3 separate regions of the Homo sapiens genome follow, and all the other regions are linked to region 3. The links come from fine-mapping of genetic effects on gene expression. A gene starts in region 3. Each other region holds a variant in brackets. All regions are shown on one strand. Distances are from middle to middle. Region 1 overlaps ZMAT3 (zinc finger matrin-type 3). Region 2 has its middle 61 kb from the start of ZMAT3. Region 3 holds the start of ZMAT3 (zinc finger matrin-type 3).

Region 1 (8,201 bases), 33 kb before region 3:
GCAATACGGAAAAAGAAAACTGTGCACCAAGAAAATAGCATGAGCAAAAGCCCAGCCTTCTGTGTTGAGGGGCTACAAGGAGAGATAACGGTCTTCTAGATCCTTTGGAGGAGAGGCAAAAATTGAAATACACAGGGGGCTCATTCTTAATGCCTTTGCCCATGATAAAGAACTTGGACTTCAGAGGCAGCAGGGAGCCTCTGAGGAACTTTAAGCAAAGCAGTGCATGACTTGATTGTATTTGATAAAGATGAGCATCAGGGTAGCAGACCAAAGCTGGAAGCTGGGAAGATACACAGAGGAGAGTCAAGGACAAAATCCTAGACACTACAACATAGAGTCTAGTAGAGAATGAAGATCCAGAAAATGAGATTGACAAGGTCTAGCCAAAAAGTAAGATAAAAATCAGATAGTATGTTATCATAGAAGCCCACAACCAAACTGGAGTTCAAGAGTGTGGTCAGGATGAAGACAGACTCTCAGGAATGATCTGAATGTGGATGGTATTTAAAGCTATGGAGCCAAAAACTATCACCTAGACAGAGTGGAGACAGATAACAGCTTGCAAAATGGGCCTCAAGCAAGATAATGGCTAGATAAAGGAGAAAGACGCAGGAACTATGAAGAAGGTAAGAACAAGTAATAGCATATTGGATAAGAGGGTAGAAGGGAGGTGAACCGCAGGGTAGATGGAAATATTTATGAAAAATTTTTAAAGGTGTGGGGAGGAAAAAAGGCTTTGGGGAAGAAGATAGAGTCAACAATCTCAATCTCAATATGAGATTGAGACAACCGAAAGACATCTTAATGAATCCAAGAGACAGTGCAATGTGTGGCTTAGTGACAGCAACTGGAGACAGACAAATTCCTAGGCAGACAGGGATGGGTCCCTGTGAAACCCAACCTCATGCCAAAGACAGTTTAAAGACTGAAAACTGAGCTGCCAGTTGCAGGTGGAGTCCACAACGAGAGTGAGAACTTCCTCGATGCCTTTTAGGCAATCAAATGGTGCTTTTTCCAAGCCGACCCGTGAACCAATCAGCACGCACTCCCCCATTCTGAGCCCATAAAAATCCCAGACTCAACCCCACAGATGGCAAACCTCTTTTGGGTCCCCTCTCACACACAGGGCTAATCACTCTTGGGCCCCCTCTCTGCTGAGAGCTTTCCTTCTATTGCTCAATGAAATTCTTCTCCACCCTATTCACTCTCCAGTGTCCATGTACCTTATTCCTCTTATTCCTCTTGGTCGCAGGAGAAGAACCCAGAATAGGCCAACCTGTAACACACACCCATTCACTGAGCTGCGGGTGGTGGGACCGACTGAGCTGTAACATGCCCCTGTTCGCCAAGCTGCAGGTGGCAGGAACAATACAAAGCTGCAACATTTCTTGGGAGGTCAAATCTTGGGACTCCCCGGATGAGAGCTGTAACACCCCTTGGGACTCTGCCATTACTGACATCTCTGAGTTTTCGGGCACCACCCACATTCCCCTCATCTAGACAACGACACCCAATGCAGAAGCTGCTGGCAACACACCCAGTGGAGCCATGGGCTGAGTGCAGATCCCTCAGCGGGCGCAGGATCCAGGCCAAGGCACAAGCCGAGCACAGCCTGCCAGGCTGAGTGGGCGGAGTGAGCTCGGTGGAATGAGGCCCCAGGCAGAGGACACAGCACCCACAGAGATTTCCGGCTGGTGAAGCAGCACCAAAGGAATCCTTACACTGCAACCCTCCCTCCTGCTCACTGAGCAACGGGGAAAAAAAGCCAGTGTGCCATTTCCTCCCGCTTGCTGAACTACAAAAGCTGCAACATTAGCACTAAGGAAGTCAAGGCTAAGAAGGTTTAGAAGTCTTCTAAAAACAGGTGAGAATTTGAATCTACAACTCTGGCGGAAGATAACAGGGTTAAATAGTTACTGACTACCCTCTATGTTCTGGCAACCATTCTAAGAAAAGGAGATAAAACAGTGAACAAAGGCAAAGTCTCTGCCCTCAAGAAGCTTTTCTAGGGGACATAAACAGAATATATACATGTACATATATATATGTACACACACACAACCAAAGAAAAAAGAGTTACTGACAACTGCTCTGCAAAAAATAAAACAGGATGATATAATAGATAATGGACAGGGAGAGAGTGGGGTGGGCCGACAAGGCTTTTCTGGGGAGATACATGTCAGCTAAAAGCTGAAGCATGAGATGGCTCCAGCCATGCAATGTAGAGAAAGGGGGAAGAGCTGGGCATCAAGAGACCCACTTGCTGTGTTAAGTCTGAGATCCCTTTCAGATGTCCAAAGAGAGACCAACCTGGAGTTTACGAACGAGGTCAGGTTAGAGATAGAATCTGAGGAGTTATCAGTATGTAGGTGGAATTTAAAACCATGGAACTAGGGCCAGGCACAGTGGCTCATGCCTATAATCCCAGCACTTTGGGAGGCTGAGGCAGAAGGATCACTTGAGTCTAAGACTTTGAGACCAAACTGGGCAAAATGACAAAACCCCATCTCTAAAAAAAGAAAAATGAGGCAGGCATGGTGGTGCAAACCTATGGTCCCAGCTGCTGGGAGCACTGAGATGGAAGGATCAGTTAAACCCAGAAGGTTGAGGTTGCAGTGAGCCATGACTGCAATGCTACACTCCAGCTGGGTGACAGAGCGAGACCCTGTCTCAAAAAATAAAATAAAATACAAGATGGCCAAATAGGAACAGCTCTGGTCTGCAGCTCCCAGCGTGATCAATGCAGCAGACGGGTGATATCCGCATTTTGAACTGAGGTACCTGGTTCACCTCACTGGGACTGGTTGTACAGTGGGTGCAGCCCACAGAGGACGAACTGAAGCAGGGTGGGGTGTTACCTCAACCGGGAAGCCAAGAGGTCAGGGGATTTCCCTTTCCTAGCCAAGAGAAGCCGTGACGGACTGCACCTGGAAAAACAGGACACTTCTGCCCAAATACTGCGCTTTTCCCAAGGTCTTAGCAACCGGAAAACAAGGAGATACTCTCCCGTGCCTGGCTTGGCAGGTCCCACGTCCACAGAGCCTCACTCACTGCTAGCGCAGCAGTCTGAGATCAAACTGCAAGGCAGCAGCCTGGCTGGGGGAGGGGCCTCAGCCATTGCTGAGGCTTGAGTAGGTAAACAAAGTGGCTGGGAAGCTCGAACTGGGCAGAGCCCACCACAGCTCAACAAGGCCTACTGCCTCCAGACTCCACCTCAGTGGGCAGGGCTTAGCTGAACAAAAGGCAGCAGACAACTTCTGCAAAGTTCAATGTCCCTTTCTGACAGCTCTGAAGAGAGCAGTGGTTCTCCCAACATGGTGTTTGAGCTCTGAGAATGGACAGACTGCCTCTTCAAGTGGCTCCTTGACCTCCATGTAGCCTAACTGGGAGACACGTCCCAGTAAGGGCCAACAGTCACCTCATATAGATGGGTGCCCCTCTGGGATGCAGATTCCGGAGGAAGGATCAGGCAGCAATATTTGCTGTTCTGCAATATTTGCTGTTCTGCAGCCTCCGCTGGTGATACCCAGGCAAACCGGGTCTGGAGTGGACCTCCAGCAAACTCCAACAGACCTGCAGCTGAGGGACCTATTAGAAGGAAAACTAACAAACAGAAAGGAATAGCATCAACATCAACAAAAAGAACGTCTACACCAAAACCCCATCTGTAGGTCACCAACATCAAAGACCAAAGGTAGATAAAACCAAAAAGATGGGGAGAAACCAGAGCAGAAAAGCTGAAAATTCTAAAAATCAGAGTGCCTCCTCTCCAAAGGATCATAGTTCCTCACCAGCAATGGAACAAAGCTGGACAAAGAATGACTCTGACGAGGTGACAGAAGTAGACTTCAGAAGGTCAGTAATAACAAACTTCTCCAAGCTAAAGGAGCATGTTCGAACCCATCGCAAGGAAGCTAAAAACCTTGAAAAAAGGTTAGACGAATGGCTAACTAGAATAAACACTGTAGAGAAGACCTTAAATGACTGATGGAGCTGAAAACCATGGCATGGGAACTTCGTGACACATGCACAAGCTTCAATAGCCAATTCGATCTAGTGGAAGAAAGGGTATCAGTGATTGAAGATCAAATTAATTAATGAAATAAAGCAAGAAGACATGGTTAGAAAAAAAGAGTAAAAAGAAATGAACAAAGCCTCCAAGAAATATGGGACTATGTGAAAAGACCAAATCTACGTTTGATTGGTGTACCTGAAAGTGATAGGGAGAATGGAACCAAGTTGGAAAACACTCTTCAGGATATTATCCAGGAGAACTTCCCCAACCTAGCAAGGCAGGCCAACATTCAAATTCAGGAAATACAGGGAATGCCACAAAGATACTCCTTGGGAAGAGCAACCCCAAGACATGTAATTGTCACATTCACCACGGTTGAAATGAAGGAAAAAATGTTAAGGGCAGCCAGAGAGAAAGGTCGAGTTACCCACAAAGGGAAACCCATCAGACTAACAGCGGATCTCTC[G/A]GCAGAAACCCTACAAGCCAGAAAAGAGTGGGGGCCGATATTCAACTTCCTTAAAGAAAAGAATTTTCAACCCAGAATTTCATATCCAGCCAAACTAAGCTTCATAAGTGAAGGAGAAATGAAATCCTTTACAGACAAGCAAATGCTGAGAGATTTTGTCACCACCAGGCCTGCCTTACAAGAGTTCCTGAAGGAAGCACTAAACATAGAAACAACCGGTAACAACCACTGCAAAAACTGCCAAATTATAAAGACCATCGATGCTATGAAAAAACTGCATCAATTAATGGGCAAAACAACCAGCAAACATCATGACAGGATCAAATTCACACATAACAATACTAACCTTAAATGTAAATGAGCTAAATGCCCCAATTAAAAGACACAGACTGGCAAATTGGATAAAGAGTCACAACCCATCAGTGTGCTGTATTCAGGAGACCCATCTCATGTGCAAAGACACACAGAGGCTCAAAATAAAGGGATGGAGGAAGATCTACCAAGCAAATGGAAAGCAAAAAAAAAAAAAAAGCAGGGGTAACAATCCTACTCTCCGATAAAACAGACTTTAAATCAACAAAGATCAAAAGAGACAAAGAAGGGCATTACATAATGGTAAAGGGATCAATTCAATGAGAAGAGCTAACTATCCTAAATATATATGCACCCAATACAGGAGCACCCAGATTCATAAAGCAAGTCCTCAGAGACCCACAAAGAGACTTAGACTCCCACACAATAATAATAGGAGACTTTAACATCCCACTGTCAATATTAGACAGATTAATGAGACACAAGGTTAACAAGCATATACAGGACTTGAACTCAGCTCTGCACCAAGCAGACCTAATAGGTATCTACAGAACTCTCCACCCCAAATCAACATAATATACATTCTTCTCAGCACCACATCACACTTATTCTAAAATTGACCACATAATTGGAAGTAAAGTATTCCTCAGCAAATGTAAAAGAACAGAAATCACAACAAACTGCATCTCAGACCACAGTGCAATCAAATTAGAACTCAGGATTAAGAAACTCACTCAAAACTGCACAACTACATGGAAACTGAACAACTTGCTCCTGAATGACTACTGGGTAAATAACGAAATGAAGGCAGAAATAAAGATGTTCTTTGAAACAAATGAGAACAAAAACTCAACGTACCAGAGTCTCTGGGACACATTTAAAGCAGTGTGGTAGAGGGAAATTTATAGCACTAAATGCCCACAAGAGAAAGCAGGAAAGATCTAAAATTGACACCCTAACATTACAATTAAAAGAACTAGAGAAGTAAGAGCAAACAAATTCAAAGGCTAGCAGAAGGCAAGAAATAACTAAGATCAGAGCAGAACTGAAAGAGACAGACACACAAAAATCCCTTCAAAAAATCACTGAATCCAGGAGCTGTTTTTTTTAAAAGATCAACAAAATTGAGAGACCACTAGCAAGACTAATAAAGAAGAAAAGAGAGAAGAATCAAATAGATGCAATAAAAAAATGATAAAGGGGATGTCACCACCGATCCCACAGAAATACAAACTACCATCAGTGAATACTATAAACACCTCTACGCAAACGAACTAGAAAATCTAGAAGAAATGGATAAACTCCTGGGCACATACACCCTCCCAAGACTAATCCAGGAAGAAGTTGAATCTCTGAATAGACCAGTAACAGGCTCTGAAATTGAGGCAATAATTAATAGCCTACCAATCAAAAAAAGTCCAGGGCCAGACAGATTCACAGCCGAATTCTACCAGAGGTACAAAGAGGAGCTGGTACCATTCCTTCTGAAACTATTCCAATCAATAAAAAGAGGGAACTCATTTTATGAGGCCAACATCATCCCGACACCAAAGCCTGGAAGAGATACAACAAAAACCAGAGAACTTTAGACCAATATCCCTGATAAACATGGATGCGAAAATCCTCAATAAAATACTGGCAAACCGAATCCAGCAGCGTATCAAAAAGCTTATCCACCATGATCAGGTCAGCTTCATCCCTGGGATGCAAGGCTGGTTCAACATACACAAATCAAAAAACATAATCCATCACATAAACAGAACCAATGACAAAAACCACATGATTATCTCAATAGAGGCAGAAAAGGCCTTTGACAAAACTCAACAGCCTTCATGCCAAAAACTCTCAATAAATTAGGTATTGATGGAACGTATCTCAAAATAATAAGAGCTATTTATGACAAACCCACAGCCAATATCACACTGAATGGGCAAAAACTGGAAGCATTCTCTTTGAAAACTGGCACAAGACAAGGATGCCCTCTCTCACCACTCCTATTCAACATAGTGTTGGAAGTTCTGGCCAGGGCAATCAGGCAAGAGAAAGAAATAAAGGGTATTCAATTAGGAGAAGAGGAAGTCAAATTGTCCCTGCTTGCAGATGACATGATTGTATATTTAGAAAACCCCATTGTCTCAGCCCAAAATCTCCTTAAGCTGATAAGCAACATCAGCAAAGTCTCAGATACAAAATCAATGTGCAAAAATCACAAGCACTCCTATACACCAATAACAGACAAACAGAGAGCCAAATCATCAGTGAACTCCCATTCACAATTGCTACGAAAACAATAAAATACCTAGGAATCCAACTTACAAGGGATGTGAAGGACCTCTTCAAAGAGAGCTACAAACCACTGCTTAAGGAAATAAAAGAGGACACAAACAAATGGAAGAACATTCCATGCTCATGAACAGGAAGAATCAATATCGTGAAAATAGCCATACTGCCCAAGGTAATTTATAGATTAAATGCCATCCCCATCAAGCTACCAATGACTTTCTTCACAGAATTGGAAAAAACTACTTTAAAGTTCATATGGAACCAAAAAAAGAGCCCGCATTGCCAAGACAATCCTAAGCCAAAAGAACAAAGCTGGAGGCATCATGCTACCTGACTTCAAACTATACTACAAGCCTACAGTAACCAAAACAGCATGGTACTGGTACCAAAACAGACATATAGACCAATGGAAAAGAACAGGCCTCAGAAATAACACCACACATCTACAACCATCTGATCTTTGACAAACCTGACAAAAACAAGAAATGGGGAAAGGATTCCCTATTTAATAAATGGTGCTGGGAAAACTGGCTAGCCATATGTAGAAAGCTGAAACTGGATCCCTTCCTTACTCCTTATACAAAAATTAATTCAAGATGGATTAAAGACTTAAATGTTAGACCTAAAACCATAAAAATCCTAGAAGAAAACCTAGGCAATACCATTCAGCACATAGGCATGGGCACAGACTTCACAACTAAAACACCAAAAGCAATGGCAACAAAAGCCAAAATAGACAAATGGGACCTAATTAAACTAAAGAGCTTCTGCACAGCAAAAGAAACTACCATCAGAGTGAACAGGCAACCTACAGAATGGGAGAAAATTTTTGCGATCTCCCCATCTGACAAAGGGCTAATATCCAGAATCTACAAAGAACTCAAATTTACAAGAAAAAAACAAAGAACCCCATCAAAAAGTGGGCAAAGGATATGAGGATATGAACAGACACTTCTCAAAAGATGACATCTATGCAGCCAACAGATACATGGAAAAATGCTCATCATCATTCGTCGTCAGAGAAATGAAAATCAAAACCACAATGAAGATTCACACCAGTTAGAATGGCAATCATTAAAAAGTCAGGAAACAACAAATGCTGGAGAGGATGTGGAGAAATAG
Region 2 (8,201 bases), 61 kb before region 3:
TCAAGACATACACAGTAAAATAAAATGTAAATATAAAAAACAAAGAGTTAAGAAGTATGGAAACAAAGTTAAAGTGCAGAATTTTTATCAGTTTTCTTTTTGCTCATTGGTTTGTTTCTTTATGAAAAGAGTGTTAAATTTTTATCAGCTTAAAATAATGGGTTATAAGATAATATTTGCAAGCCTCACGGTAACCTCAAACAAAAAAACATACAACAGATACAGAAACTAAAAAGCAAGAAACTAAATAATATCACCAGAGAAAATCACCTTCAATAAAAGGAAGACAAGAAGAAAAGAAAATAGGAAGAGAAGACCAGAAAACAAATAACAAACTGGCAGGAGTGAGTCCTTACTTATCAATAATAACAGTAAATTAAATGGACTAAACTCCCCAATCAAAACACACAGAGTGGTTGAATGAACTAAAAAAAAGAAAGACCCATTGATCTGTCACCTACAAAAAAAAAAAAAAAAAAAACCACGTTTTACCTATAAAGACACACATAGACAGAAAAATAAAGGGATGAAAAAATCTGTTCCATGCCATTGGAAACCAAAAATGAGCAGGAGTAGTCACACTTATTTCAGACAAAATAGATTATAAGACAAAAACTGTAGGAAGAAACAAAGAAGATCATTATATAATAATGGTAAAGGGGTCAATTCAGCAAGAGGACATAACAATAGTAAATATACATGCACAAAACACTGGAGCACCCAGATATATAAAGCAAATATTATTAGAGCTAAAGAGAGATAGACTCCAATACAATAATAGCCGGAGATGTCAATGCCCCATTTTTAGCATGGTACAGAAAATCAACAAGGAAACATATGACTTAATCTGCCCCATAAAACAAATGGATCTAATAGATATTTATGGAACATGTCATCAAATGGCTGCAGAATACACATTCTTTTTCTCAGCACATGGATCATTCTCAAAAATAAACTATATGTTAGGTCACAAAAAAAGTCATAAAACATTCAAAAAAACTGAAATAATATCAAGCATCTTCTCTAAAAACAATGGGATAAAACTACAAATCAGTGACAGGAGGAATTCTGGAAACTATACAAATGCATGGAAATTAAACAATATGATCCTGAATAACCAGTGGATCAATGAAGAAATTAAGAAGGAAGTTGAAAACTTTCTTGAAACAAAATGATAATGGAAACACAACATACCAAAAGCTATGGGACACAGCAAAAGTGGTACAAAAAGAGAAATTTATAGCCAGAAACATCAAAAAGGTAGAAAAATTCAAATAAACAACATAACAATGAATCTTAAAGAACTAAAAAAGCAAGAGCACACCAAATCCAAAATTAGTAGAAGAAATAATAAAGATCAGAGCAGAAATAAATGAAATTGAAGTGAAGAAAACAATACAAAAGATCTTTGAAGCAAAAATTTGGCTTTTTGAAAAGTTAAACAAAATTGACAAACCTTTAGCCAGGCTAAGAATAAAAGAGAGAAGACTCAAATAAATAAAATCAGAGATGAAAAAGGTGATATTACAACTGATACCTCAGAAAGCAAAGGATAATTAGTGGCTAGTTTGAGTAACTATATGGCAATGAATTGGAAAATATGGAAGAAACTGGCAAAACGCTAGACACATACAACCTATAAAAATTAAACCATGAAGAAATCCCAAACCCAAACAGACCAAAAAAAAAAAATAAAAAAATCTCCCAGTAAGGGAAGCCCAGGATCCAATGGCTTCACTGCTGAATTCTACCAAATGTTTAAAGGAGAACTGATACCAATTCCACTGAAACTATTATAGAGGAGGGAATACTTTCAAATTCATTCTACAAAGCCAGTATTCCCTGATGTCAAAACCAGGCAAAATTCATCAAAAAAAGAAAACTACAGGCTAATATCTCTGATAAATATTAATGCAAAAATATTCAACAAAATACTAGCAAACCTAATTCAACAATATATTAAAAAGATAATTCATCATAACCAAGTGAGATTTATTCCAGGGATGCAAGAATGACTCAACATATAAAAATCAATCAATGTGATACAGCATATCATCAGAATGAAAGACAAAAACTATATGATTATTTCAACTGAGGCTGAGCAAGCATTTGACAAAGTTCAACATTCTTTCATGATAAAAACTCACAAAAAAACTGGGAATAGGAGAAATACACCTCAACATAATAAAAGCTACATATAACAGACCCACAGATAGTATCATACTGAACAGATAAAAAAACGAAATGAAAGCCTTTCCTCTAAGAGCAGGAACACAACAAGAATGCCCACTTTTACCACTGTTATTCAACATAGTACTGAAAGTCTTAGCTAGAATGATCGGATATGAGAAAAAAATAAAGGGTATCAAATTGAAATGGAAGAAGTGAAATTATCCTTGTTTGCAAATGATATGATCTTACATTTGGAAAAACTTAAAGACGCAACCAAAACACTATTAGAACTGATAAATAAATTCAGTAAAGTTGCAGGACATAAAATGAACATACAAAAATCAGTAACATTTCTATATGCCAACAGTGAACAATCTGAAAAAGAAATTTAAAAAGTAATCCCATTTATGATAGCCAAACGTAAAATTAAATACTTAGGAATTAACCAAGGAAGTGAAAGATCTCTATAATGAAAACTATAAAACACTGATGAAATAAATTGGACACCAAGAAATGGAAAGAAATCCCATGTTCATGGATTGGAAGAATCAATATTGTTAAAATGTCCACACTACCCAAAGCAATCTACAGATTTAATGTAATCCCTATTCACATACCAATGACATTCTTCACAGAAATAGAAAAAACAATCCTAAAATGTTTATGAAACCATAAAAGACCCAGACTAGCCAAAGCTATCCTGAGTGCAAAGAACAAAACTGTAGGAATCACACTAGCTAATTTCAAATTATACTACAGAGCTATGGTAACCAAAACAACATGGTACTGGCACAAGAACAGACACATAGACCAATGGAACAGAATAGAAAACCCAGAAACAAATCCATACACCTACAGTGAATACATTTTCAACAAAGGTGCCAAAAGTGTACATTACAGAAAAGACAGTCTCTTCAATAAATTGTGCTGGGAAAACTGGATAACCATATGCAGAAGAACAAATTTTATCTATATCTCTTGTGTTATATAAAAATCAAACGAAACCGGATTAAAGACTTAAATCTAAGACCTCAAACTATGAATTTACTACAATAAAACACTGGGGAAATTCTCCAGGACATTGTTCTGGGCAAAATTTTGAGTAATACCTCACAAGCACAGGCAATCAAAGCAAAAATGGATAAAGAGGATCGCATCAAGTTTAAAAGCTTCTGTACAGAAAAGGCAACAAGCAATAAAGTGAAGAGACAACCCACAGAATGAGAGCAAATATTTACAAACTACCCATCTGACAAAAGATTAATAACCAGAATATATAAGGAGCTCAAACAACTCTACAGGAAAAAAATCTAATAATCTGATTTAAAATAAGCAAGAGATTTGAACAAACATTTCTCAAAAGAAGAAACACAAATGACAAACAGGCATATGAAAAGGTGTTCAATATCATTGATTATCAGAGAAATGCAAATCAAAACTACAGTGAGATATCATCTTACCCCAGTTAAAATGGCTTATATAGAAAAGACAGGCAATAACAAATGCCAGTGAGGATTTGGAGAAAAGGAAACGCTCATACCCTGTTGGTGGGAAAGTAAATTAGTAAAACCACTTTGAAGAAGTTTTGAGATTCCTCAAAAAACTAAAAATTCAGCTACCATGCAATCCAGCAATCCCATTGCTGGGCATATACCCAAAAGAAAGGAAATCAGTATATCAAGGAGATATCTGTACTCCCATATTTGTTGTAGCACTGTTCACCATAGCCAAAATTTGGAAGCACCCTAAGTGTCCATCAATAGATGAATGCATAAAGAAAATGTGATACCTATACATAATGGAGTACTCTGCAGCCACAAAAAAGAATGAGATTCTATTATTTGCAACAACAAAGGATGGAATTGGAGGTCAATATATTAAGTGAAATAAGCCAGGCACAGAAAGATAAATGCATGTTCTCACTTATTTATGAGATCTAAAAATCAAAACAATTGAACTCATGGAGATAGAGTGTAGACTGATGGTTACCAGAGGCTGGGAAGGGTAGTGAGGGGAGGGGAGGAAGTGGGGATGGTTAATGGGTACAAAAAAGTAGTTAGAAAGAGTGAATAAGACCTAGTATTTGATAGCATACCAGGTTGACTATAGTTAATAATAATTTACCTGTACGTTTTAAAATAACTAAAAGAGTATAATTGGATTGTTTGTAATACAAAGGACGAATGCTTGAGGGGATGGATACCCAATTTTCCATGATGTGATTATTATGCATTGCATGCCTGTACCAAAATATCTCATGTACCCCATGTATACACCTATGTACCCACAAAAAC[T/TAA]AAAAAAAAAAAAAAAAAAAACTACAACCCAGGAAAATCTGCCAGATTGCCACTGCCTGTCTGTTTCAACTGAAGATGTTTCTAACCCAAATCTGGCCATCTTCTCAACTGACTGCCCTCCAGACTCTAAAGAAACTAATTTATAGGCTGTTCCAAATGTTAACGTTATTTTTCTCTGTTTTCATAGAAATGTCTCTTATCAAAGATGTTTGGCCTAACTTTGAGAGCCCATCTGCAATGCCACCTGTTGCAATGGGAAACAACAGTTTAACTGATGTAGTATCACAACTAAGAGACGGATTCAAGAAGATATGGCATGACATACTTATATTTGTTCTTTTCTGCTTATCCCAATTTGTTTTGCTCCCTCTTATCTCAAAACTTCTAACCCAAATCTCTCCATAGCTACCAATCCTACTTTAATAAGTGACACTTCTGTGTTTTTTTTTTTTTTTTGAGACAGGGTCTCTCTCTGTCACTCAGGATAGAGTGGCACAACCTCAGGTCACTGCAACCTCCCCCTCAAGGCTCAAGTGATCCTCCAACCTCCCCCTCAAGGCTCAAGTGATCCTCCCACCTCAGCCTCCTGAATAGCTGGGACTACAGGCACGTGCCACCATGGCTAGCTAATTATTTTTTTTTTTTCTGTAGAGATGGGCTTTTGCCATATTTCCCAGGCTGATCTCAAACTCCTGGGCTCAAGCGATCCACCCACCTCAGCCTCCTGAAGTGTTGAGATTACAGGCATGAGCCACTGCGCCCAAACATTAATAAGCGAAACGTTCTAAAGTTTCAAGTGGGGGACTAAAGGAAACTAAGAAATGTTTCACTCCAAAATATACTTCTTTGACATATTTTGAGATGACTATTCAGAGGGCCTGCAACACAAGAATCAGCCTGCAAAGCTGAGTCTTTTACGGGGATTTGCATCTCTAGAGGAAATAAAGTGAAGTAAACAACAGATGCAAACAGGCTTTTTCTGAAGCCCCACCTTGTCCAGAACAAGGCAAGATTAACTGAGAGCCTGACACCTTTAAAGGTTTTATAGAAACATCTACCACAGGCTCCCATCTCTTTTTTTTTTTTTTTTTTTTTTTTGAGATGGAGTCTTGCTCTGTCGCCCAGGCTAGAGTGCAGTGGTGTGCTCTCAGCTCACTGCAACCTCCGCCTCCCGGGTTCAAGCTATTCTCCTGCCTCAGCCTCCCAAGTAGCTGGGACTATAAGCACCCGCTACCACACCCAGCTAATTTTGTATTTTTAGTAGAGACGGGGTTTCACCATGTTGTCCAGGCTGGTCTCGAACTCCTGACCTCAGGTGATCCACTTGCCTTGGTCTCCCAAAGTGCTGGGATTACAGGCATGAGCCACCGTACCTGGCCTCCCATTTTTCCTTTCTGAGGGCTGCTACCTGTGAGATCATCTGCATAACAAGACCACCTTTGCAGCACACCTTGCCTCTTCTCTCCTTCCCATAACCTCTCATGCCACCATAACCTGTCTTGACAAGCTTCAAGCCCCTATTCTTTCTGTAACCTCAAGATAGTATTAAAGAGTTGTGAATGGAAAATAAAATTTTGGGACCCCCTATTCACCATACCTAAGGGAAAAAGTCAAGCTTGAGAACTGAGTCACACAAAACTGCCTCCCATTTTGTTCCTCAACAGCTACAAAGATGAAAGACTACCTACATACCTCCCTCGCAATTTGCTCACGAGCAAATTTTTTGTGGGCCCTCAAGATCCTTACCCTAAAACAGTTCTGTTGAATTTCACCCTGACAATAACAAACAATTTATCTTCAGAAGAACGGGACAAAGGATAGAACCAGAAGTCATACCTCTGCTCACCTGAGACAAATGCATATTTGACTGCTTCCTCTATTCTGTTTACTTATCTTATGTAAAAACGTAGATTCACTGAGCATGAGACAAATGCCTCTACCCTCTCCTTTCACATGTAAAATGTGGATCCACTGAACGCTGATGAAATCTTCAAAAGATTGCAACTTCTTGCCTCTTTCATCTACACTTCTTTTCTCTCCTGCCCATGTTTTCCCCTTTAAATATGGAAGCACTCAAAATCCTCTTTGGAAAAAAAGTGTGGGCCACAGATTCTATTGTGGCTAGTGGCTTTTTTTCCTGGGTGTATCATCAACCTTGGCAAAATAACTCTCAGTTGATTGAGATCTGTCTCAGATACTTTTTGGTTTACAGCATCAGCTGTCTGGACATTTGAGTTTTTCATATTTTGTATGACTCCCATGCCCATATGTACATTAATAAATCTGTATGCCTTTTTTCCTGTTAATCCATGGTCAGTTTGTTTTACAGACTCAAATTATCAAAGCTTCAGTGAAAAAAATTAAACTTTTATACACTTTGCATATATAAAATAATTTATAATTTTCCAAGTCTTCAGCTATGTACACCTATGGTCACAGTAGCATTATTCACAATAGCTAAAAGGTAGAAGCAACGTAAGTGTCCATCAGTGGATGAATAAACAAAATGTCATCGATACATGCAATGGGATATTATTCAGCCTTAAAAAGGAAGGAAAGTTGATAAATGCTTGAGGTGATAAGATACCCCAATTACCCTGATTTGATCATTACACATTGAATGTTTGTATCAAAATGACACATGTACCCCATAAATACGTACAATATTATATATCCCTAATTAAAAATAATTTTTAAAAATGAAGGAAATTCTGATACATACTACGACATGGATGAACCTTGAGGACATTATGCCAAGTGAAATACGCCAGACACAAAAGGACAATTGTCATATGATTCCACTTATATGAGGTACCTCAAGTAGTCAAAATCATAGAGACAGAAAGTAGAATGGTGGTTACCAGGGACTGGGGAAGAGAGAATGTGGAGTTATTGTTTAATGAGTAAAATTTCCGTTTGGGAAGATAAAAAATTTCTGGAGATGGAGAGTGATTATGATTGTAAACTAAATGGTTAAAATGGTAAATTTTATATGTTTTGCTATTTTTAAGGGTTTAATTTTTTTAAATTATTATTACATAAATGTCCATCAATAGAGGATCAATAACAGAAATTTTAGAAATCATACAAGGAAACACCACAGAATGAAAAACAATGAAATAGATCCACATGTGCTGGTATGGAATGCTTGCCAAGGTCACACACACACACACACACATACACACACACACACATACCCCAAGGTGATGAACAGAACAGTAGGGATGGAATGCCTCCATTCACGTTACATAGACTTTATCTGGAAAAGACTCAAGAAACTGCTAACCGCGATCAATTGCCGCTGGGCAGGGGGGACATGGCAGCATGGAGTTCAGGAGTGAGTTCAGGACTTATGTATTTCGAAAAAAAAAAACAATTCTTTTTGAAAACAGCAATCTTCTAAATTATCCATAGTACTGAAAGAGAGGAATAAAGAAGAAATAACTAGATCCACCCCTAATACCCCAGTTATGGGGATCTGAATTTCAAGAGGTCAAGTGACAAGCCAGGGAACACACTGGTGACAGAACTGAGACCAGTTACCCAGTATGTACTTTTTCTGAATGTTTGAAATATTTAATAAAACTACTTTTTTAAAAAAGTCTCTTTCTTCATTGCTAGCTTATTAAAGCAGAAAATATTGTTTTCCCCAAAAATAAACTATGTTTGGGAAAATTTTAATATTTTATAGTTTAATTTTTATGTCAGCAAGATTTCCATGTTTGGTAACATTTG
Region 3 (8,201 bases):
AGAGGTGGTCGTGAGCCGAGATCGTGCCATTGCACTCCAGCCTGGGTGACAGAGCAAGACTGTGACTCAAAAAAAAAAAAGACCACCAGCTAAAAATCTTAGCAAACATATCTTCCAACCAACCAATATCAAAAAGAGTGTATAAAAGAATATCATCTTGCAGAATTCTTAAAGCACTTATAGAACTAGCTAAAATTTCAGGGAACTCTAGGAGTAGCCTAAAGTATGACAGAAATAAATAAAATATGTTCCTTCTGATCAACTAGCAATATTTAAGTAGTTGAGCAAATGTATAGCAGAGGTGGCAAACAGCCTGTGGGCCACATACAGCCACAGATGTGCTGTTTGGAATATACAGTTTTGTTTTCATTTTTTTAAGTCGAATTAGTTGTTAGCATTTAAAAATCAAGAGATTCATGGCTTCTCTTGAAAAAGGATGATCTGGCATCACTTGGCCCACATTCCTATATGGGACGCAATTAGCTAGTTAGTGCTCAGAGGCACTGTGCCCTCTAGCGAGGCCTGCCTTCTCTGGGACACCTCAGTCCCCACTCAGCTGCTGCCTGTACTTGTTACTTGCCTGTTCTCTGTGAGCTCTTGAGTTTACAGCCCTGCCTCATACAGCCTTAGATTATATTCATCAGCCCCTGTAAAACCCAAATTTTTCCTCCTTCTCTAGGTAAATTACCTACACAAAATAAGGTATCAAGGAAATGTCCAATGGAGTAATGGATCACACCACCATAAGCCACAGTATAATTCCAGTTCCTCAATCTTGAGGCTATTTCCCTCCTCCTTCTTAACAAATAACTGATAGTCTCTATTATAATTCCCTCAGAAAAGACCCAAAATGTTCCTCTCCCTCTTCAATCTTTATCCATAATGTCTCCTGCCTCCCCCCCAGATGGCGCCGTCTAACCCTGAGTGTCTCAAAATGAACCACAGTACACCCTTTGAGTTCCCAAGATTCTAATTAACCCAAATTAGAATCCTTATTTCAAAATCCACAATTCCCTCCACTCTCTCAATACAGTATTATTAAAACCTCTTCTCTTGGTCAATAGAATATGGCTATTTTAAGCTGCTGAAATTTTCCATCTGCAATGGAAATGTGTACATTATGGCAATAATAGAATTACTAAAATGAATCAAGTAAATTTTGAAAAGTTAAAGTCTATTTTACCATATTTGATAACTACACAGCACCTGAAAATCAAGTAACAACTTTCAGACGAAATTTGGGGTGGGGAGGCAACAAAGGAAATCAGCGTGATGGGAAAATAATGTAGTTAAGGACAAAGTGCATAAGTATTAGTCATAGAATTTAACAATACTTCTCATTAATCACAAAATTTAGAAAAATGATAATATTATTTAATTTTTAAGCAGAAGTGTACTGCCCATATCTCTGGGAACATAAAAGAAAAGCAATATAGAGTTTTAACATTTAAAAAGTCAGGTTCTCTGTAATGGTATTATTTCTCTTAATTGAATCAAGCAAAGATAGTCCAGAAAGCAAAGACAGATATGGTCATTTTAGAAAACGGAACTAAGTAGACAAAGAACAGCTTTTAAAAAGTTTAACTACCTAATAATAATAATTCATAATGTTGAAAAGCTACTGATGTCAAATTGCCACAAACATTCTGCTAGTTCATTAGTGAAAAGGTGGGGGGGGGTGTCAAAACCTCTGGATAAAGGAAATCAGCAATATAAACAGAAAATCAAATGCTACCAATTGCCTAGGCATGTCTGGACTTGTTTTATGAAAGCTCACTTTCACTTGAGGAAATTCTAGCATGTGTCTCCCCCAGTGTTATCTACAGGTTTCCCTCAAAATAAAGATCCTTCTCAAAGAACAGAGGCACAAAAGGCCTCCTACCAGAGGTGACAGTTACCTGATTTAAAGAAAAAATTCTTGCCAAACACAGATTTACCCATTATCACATTTGATCTTTACAATTTTTAAAGAGTAGCTTGATATCCCAAATTTATTTCTTGTTATATTTAACAATCAACACAATGTCGACTCCTCAAAAAAATCTATGTATGACAATTGCATCAAATATTAGTACATTTGCAAACAAAAATTAGTATAAAATATAAATCTTAAAATGAATAAAACCAAGTCTTCAGTGAATGCATGAATGATGGAATACAGAGACCCAAAACATGCAACTCAGATCTGTTCAACTGTTGCATTGGTTTAAAAGGGACTAATTTGAAGACTGGCATAAATATTCTTCAAATCTTAAAAACCAGTCACTTTGATGCTTGCGATGGCATAAATGAAGGATTTATGCTGGTTAATGTCCTGGTTTGGAAAGGAGCTAAGACGACATTAAAGAAAATCAAAGCTTCACAAGGTACCCTGTTTAAAGAAAATTAATTGTCATAGCATACTTAGTTTTAATGATTGGACTGGGGCCTACTCTTCACATACTGTGTTAAAGACAATCTCTTGTCTCATTTGGAGAAATCTACAGAGGAAAGAGAATAGAATAAAGGAACAGGTTAGGAGCACCTCAGCAAACTAGGTAAGTCTGTAATTGGGAATTCTGGAAATGAGGGAAAGGCAGCGAGCATTACTCAGAGGTCATCAGAACGCAGCAAGAAGGAATGAGAGGGAGAAAAGTTAAAAAAAATAATAATAATAATCACTTGAGGCAAGGTGTATCCTATAAAGAAGGCTCAAAAGAACGCAGAAAACTGGGGAAGAGGCCTTGGTGAATTGGCGAATGTTTTTCAGTCTCCGCTGTGACGGTTCCTAATCCTAGAGAACTGTTTACAGATTTGAATCAAAGCTACAGACAGTTCAGCGTCGCCCACATCCACCTTACATTCCTAAGATGTGCATGCATACACACGAACCCACACACGCACCTCAACCCGGTATGGATGCCATCACGAAGGATGGAATCCCCCGACTCCCACGGGGCGGGGGCAACTGAGAGGGCCAAGGCAGCTGCACGCACAGATGATCCACCTGGTCCACGTGAAATGCCTGAAACAAGCAAACTGATAAATAGAAGCAGCGCAAGCCCTGTCACGTGGAGGGCAGATGGAAAGAGCATCGGAAAGGAACCGCTAGTCCCCGGCGCTCCAGGGGCTCGTCCTGAAAGCTCCGCGGCTCCCAATCGCCCGCACTTACCGGAACCCCCGGGACGCGCCGGCAGTCTCCGCGCCGCGTCCGCCCGGGACGCCCGCGACGCCCGCCCTGCGCGCCCGGCTCGGCCCAGCTCGACCCAGCCTCTTCTCGGAGCAACTTTCTCCGCCGGCCGCCGCCGAGCCCCCTCCGCAGCCGAAGGCTGACTGTCAAAAGTCAGTCCAACCCGACCCACAGGGAAACAGCTGCAGGAAGTGACTGCGGAACCGGGAGGCGGTGGAGGAGGAGACTGAGGGCGCCGGCTCGGCGTCGCCACTGCGCATGTGCTTGGCGGAGCAGGCCCGGCAGCGGTGGCAGCGGTAGCAGTGGCGGCTCCCGCATCCCCGGCGGGCGGCGCGTGGGTCAGGTGCCCTGGCCGCGAGCGCAGGGGCGCGGGGTTAGGCCGGCGTGGGGAACAAAGGCACGAGTGAGAGGCGGGAGGGTCCCGCCGCCAATCTCAGCAGACAGCCCCGAAGAGCAGTTCAGCAGATGCCCTGGAAAGTTAATCCTTGGTAGAAGCCTGGGCAGAGCTTTTGCAACTTTCATCTCCAGTCATTGGGATCCAAACATTGTTCATTCTGTTCCTCCCTTAGCCTGCTGGTTGGCGGTTAAGGCGGCTGAGTGGATCCTTTAAACTGCTGCAACAGAACCTTTAAACTGCTGCTCTCCCCACTTCCGCCCCAGGATGGAGGAAGAAGAGCGTGGCTGCCTGCCCAGTATCGGCCTCCCTCACACAAAACGCCCCCACCCACCCACACACACACCTTCCCTCCCCTACACGAAAGTGAGCAGGAGATAGAGGAGACTTTCTCCTGACCCCCAGAGGCTCACCTGCAAGACAGGAAGGACCAGGAAAAGAGTGGCCAACGCTAGGATGTCACATCCTTCATAACCAACCTGGACATCTTCAATGTTAACACTGAGTGATGAGCTGAGGAAATTCCGGCTCTAAACTTATAGCGTAAATTAACTCGTATGAAGATCTGCTGGGGTATTATTTTTGTGTGTGGCAAACGATAACAAATATACTACTTTAAGAGTACAGGCCGGGCGCGGTGGCTCACGCCTGTAATCCCAACACTTTGGGAGGCCGAGGCGGGTGGATCACGGGGTCAGGAGATCGAGACCATCCTGGCTAACACGGTGAAACCCAATCTCTACTAAAAATACAAAAATATTAGCCAGGCGTGGTGGTGGGCGCCTGTAGTCCCAGCTACTCGGGAGGCTGAGGCAGGAGAATGGCGTGAACCCGGGAGGCGGAGCTTGCAGTGAGCCGAGATCGCGCCGCTGCACTCCAGCCTGGGTGACAGAGCGAGACTCCGTCTCAAAAAAAAAAAAAAAAAAAGTACAGTTCAGTGGCATTAAGTACATTTGCATTATTGTGTGGTTATTTTTTAAAACACGAATTAAAATGCCAAGGAGATCTAAGTATAGTAAGATGTGCCCTATTAGTAGGGAAACAACTGCAGGAAATCAAGGCTGTTTCTTTGGCTGAAAAATGCACCAATCCAATACCAACAACAACAAACCATAAAAGACTTCATAAGTACAATGAATATGAAGTACAAACATATACACACAGTGTACACCAGCCATTTGGGGAGAGTAATCCATCACCTGAATTGTTTTTCCAGCTGTATAGGTACATTTACTTTATGTGTCACTATTTTAAAGGGCTATATTGTTTCTAAAATAATAAATGCTGCTAAAATCCACTCTCCAGCCCCTTTTCTATATGGTCTTTAGCCAGTCTTAGAACTTCACAGTCCACACTCCTTATCTAGGACCACAAGTAGGCCTTGCGGAGCCTTTCCGATCTGACCTTCCACCAGTCTCCCCTCATCATTTCACTCACACCCCCATCCATGCCCCTTCATTTCCTGCCTCTGTAATTTAGCTCTGTCTGCATCTTGAATACAAAATGCTTTCTCTCCCCTCCCCTTGAATTGTCAAATCCTACCTGTCCTTCCAGGCCTCTTCTTTCATGAGGTCCCACAGCACTTTTCTCCGCACACCTTGATGACACACTATTTGTTGTCCCACATTATAATTACTTAAGAGATATTTCCTCTGCCCTGTAAATACCTTGAGTCCAGGAAGGATAAATGTCTTGGAGTTTTCAAGTTTTATGTTTGATAGTTTGATGTGTTCTTGTCCATCAGGATGAAAATCTGAACAATTCCATGTTCTCTGCTCACATACTCTTCTCAGACAGCTAGGGCATTTCCTTCCCTGCCTCGGGGAGAAAGAAAAGGCAAATCTGATGCTTGTGTAATAGATATTTGAAGCTCATGGCAGTGACAGTAGTCTCATAAGTCAGAGTTTGTAGTTTAGAATTGGCTGGACTTCATGAGTTTCAGCACATGAGGTGAAAGGAAAAAAAGCCACAAACAATATATTCATCACTTTTGCGGTTGAAAAAAAAAAAAATGGCTGATGGCCACAAAGGTTTATTTCTTATTTGTATTACATGCTGGGTCAGCTGAGGTTCTGCTCCATGGGTCTCCTCAATCCAGTGCCCAAGCTGAAGAAGCTGCCCCTATGTAGAACTTGGCAATTCTCAAGGGAGATGGGAAGAGCCAGAAAGCTGTTAGAAACTTGTGAAGCCTCTTAAAGCTGCTTCTCTAATGTCTCATGACATGTCTACTCAAATCCCATTGGCCAAGGTCTTTCATATGGCCAAACCCCAAGTAAGTGGAGAAGTCTACTTCTTTCATAGGCAAATCACATGGCAATGGGCATGGATTGTAATTTTTTTGGAGTGGGGGTTGTGTGGTTAATTGTAAACAATAATGCAATCTGCCACAAAGATGGGGGAACCAATTTTCTCTCCCCAGAGATATTGGTGTATGTCCCAAAGAAAGGCCTATAAATCCCCACCCACCCACCAGCCACACACACCCAGTCGTTGGGATTCCTTTGAAAGAAACTGTGGAGCTAGAAATAATACAATTCCCACATGTGTGAAGATCTAGAGATTGGGGGCATCTGAGCTCTATTCCCAGTGGGGATCAGAAAAGCAATCAAGGTCTAGGGTTTTGCCTCAATAAGTCAAAAGAGAGTAGGATGTTAGCCTGAACTGTTTCAGCCAGAGGAATGCCCCTAAACTTTTTTTTTTTTTTTTTTTAGTATTTATGGCATTAGAGACTATTCAAGGGAGCTGACAGCTGTAGGGGGCTGATGAGCCTACAGGTCGGAAAGGGGAAGGATAGAACTGAATGAACAGAGCACTGATCTGATAGCAGAGAAAAAATAGACATCGCCTATTGAGGTCAAAGCCAAGGCGTGTTTGCACTGATGTCTACTTCCTCTTGCCACCTGCCTCCCCACTTCACCCAACCCCACCCCAAATTTTAGGGTTATCCTCAGAAAAATAAGGGGAAGCAGATCATTTTGAAGTGAATAGATATTAGCCAGAAATGACTTGGAGACAGGAGAGATTTGTGGGTAATAGAAATACATGTAGAATTGACTAATTTGTTTCTCTCTTGAAAAAGAACAGGATCTCAACATTGAGACTAATTTTAATTACTTTTTTAAAAGCAACGTTTTTATACACTGACTTTCATGACCTGATATAGTATAACCAGTACATTTGGATGACCATAGTTGATTGCATAAATGTATGAATGAATGAGGAATTTATTTTCTGCATTCTGTAATAGGCATTATAGTGCCTGCCTATGTACTTCACTGCAATGTTTCCTTTTTTAATGTAACTATTATGTGGGAAACTCTCTGAATTTATCAGAAAGGAACTCTCATATTAAAATAAGGATAATTATTTTTCATTATGCTAGACCGTATATTGAGAAAATCTACATTTGTATTTATTTACCAAGGAGATGGTCCTAACACACTTAACTTTTGGTGGCATGGCTTTAGGTTTTGGGAATCTGTCCAGAAAGCTACATGATGTACTCACAATCAGGAGAAAAACACACATCCCTCTCCAGGGACTGATACAATTCGTCAGGTCAGATCCTCTCTTGTATGGGAGTTTGTGTCATCCTTTGAGACTCCACATACCTTTTCTTTCATAACACATAATGTCTTCCAGACCGACTTCTTTCTTTAAATCATCAGAGAATGCCTCCAACATTCATTGTCTCTCATAATAACCTCGGCTTTTCAACACAATCCTTCCTTACAATCAGAGTAAAGCAATACAAAAATCTCAAATCCAGCAAAATAGGCTCTCGTGCATTTTAATAATATTCTAACATTTTTTAGCCTAAAAATAAAATATGAAGAAATAGTGGAAACATGGCAACAGCAGTCGCAAATTTTTTTTCCCTGAATTCCCCTAATTTTAAAAATGGACCTTGAGAAGAATGTGTATTCTGAAAACAAAAGGGGGGGCGCACAAAATAGATAGCAAAACCAAAGGCCTATAGCCAACTATAACAAAATATAGGAGGGAGTGGGGACAAACCACCAATAGCTACGAGACCTGTGTGGCATCAACAGGAGAAAGTAGAGAGAAACAACAGGGCAACTGACAGAAGAAAACCAAGGTGCTCTCAGCTCTCCATATCCACTGGGTTCTGCAACCACAACTATGGATCAAAAATATTTTTTAAAAAATTTGAAAATAATATAACAATGATCTACAGAGCATTTACTTTGTATTAGCTATTATAGCAATCTAGAGATGATTTAAAGTTTACTGGAGGATATACATATGTTATATACAAATACTATGACATTTTATATCAAGGCAGCTGCAGATTTGGGTATGCTGGGTCTGGAGGGTCCTGAAACCAATCCCCCACATACTGAGGGACAGCTGTAGCTGATGGGACTCACTGGAAAGTTCAGAGAGCCAATTTGAGAACAGTAACTGAAACTGAGAGGAGCTTTGCGCTTCTAAGAGTGGATTCGTGCAATGGGTAAGAGGGGAGTTTTGACAGGACTTGTGGATGGAATGGTTATATAACAGGCACTGTAGCTTAAAGAAAATTAAAGTTAGTTTCTGGGCCAAGTTTGAGGACTAATAACCCTGGAAACACAGACCTCAGAGCTAACTGAGAGTGTGTTCCTGAGTAGACTATAC

What was found.
Region 1: its variant is fine-mapped to the expression of ZMAT3 in whole blood (TOPMed, PIP 0.91).
Region 2: its variant is fine-mapped to the expression of ZMAT3 in neutrophils (CEDAR, PIP 0.95).

The regions. Positions count from the first base shown.
Region 1 is chr3:179,035,902-179,044,102 of GRCh38, forward strand. The region is part of intron 2 of ZMAT3 (zinc finger matrin-type 3); the gene reads right to left. Among named protein-coding and RNA genes, the nearest start is that of ZMAT3, 32 kb to the right of the region's middle. The variant G/A (reference allele first, on the strand shown) is at 4,485.
Region 2 is chr3:179,007,054-179,015,254 of GRCh38, forward strand. No RefSeq gene overlaps it. Among named protein-coding and RNA genes, the nearest start is that of ZMAT3, 61 kb to the right of the region's middle. The variant T/TAA (reference allele first, on the strand shown) is at 4,467.
Region 3 is chr3:179,068,444-179,076,644 of GRCh38, forward strand. ZMAT3 (zinc finger matrin-type 3) reads right to left here and starts at 3,366. Exons shown (of 6, transcript NM_022470.4): 1 at 3,152-3,366. RefSeq lists silencers at 3,093-3,242, 3,383-3,792.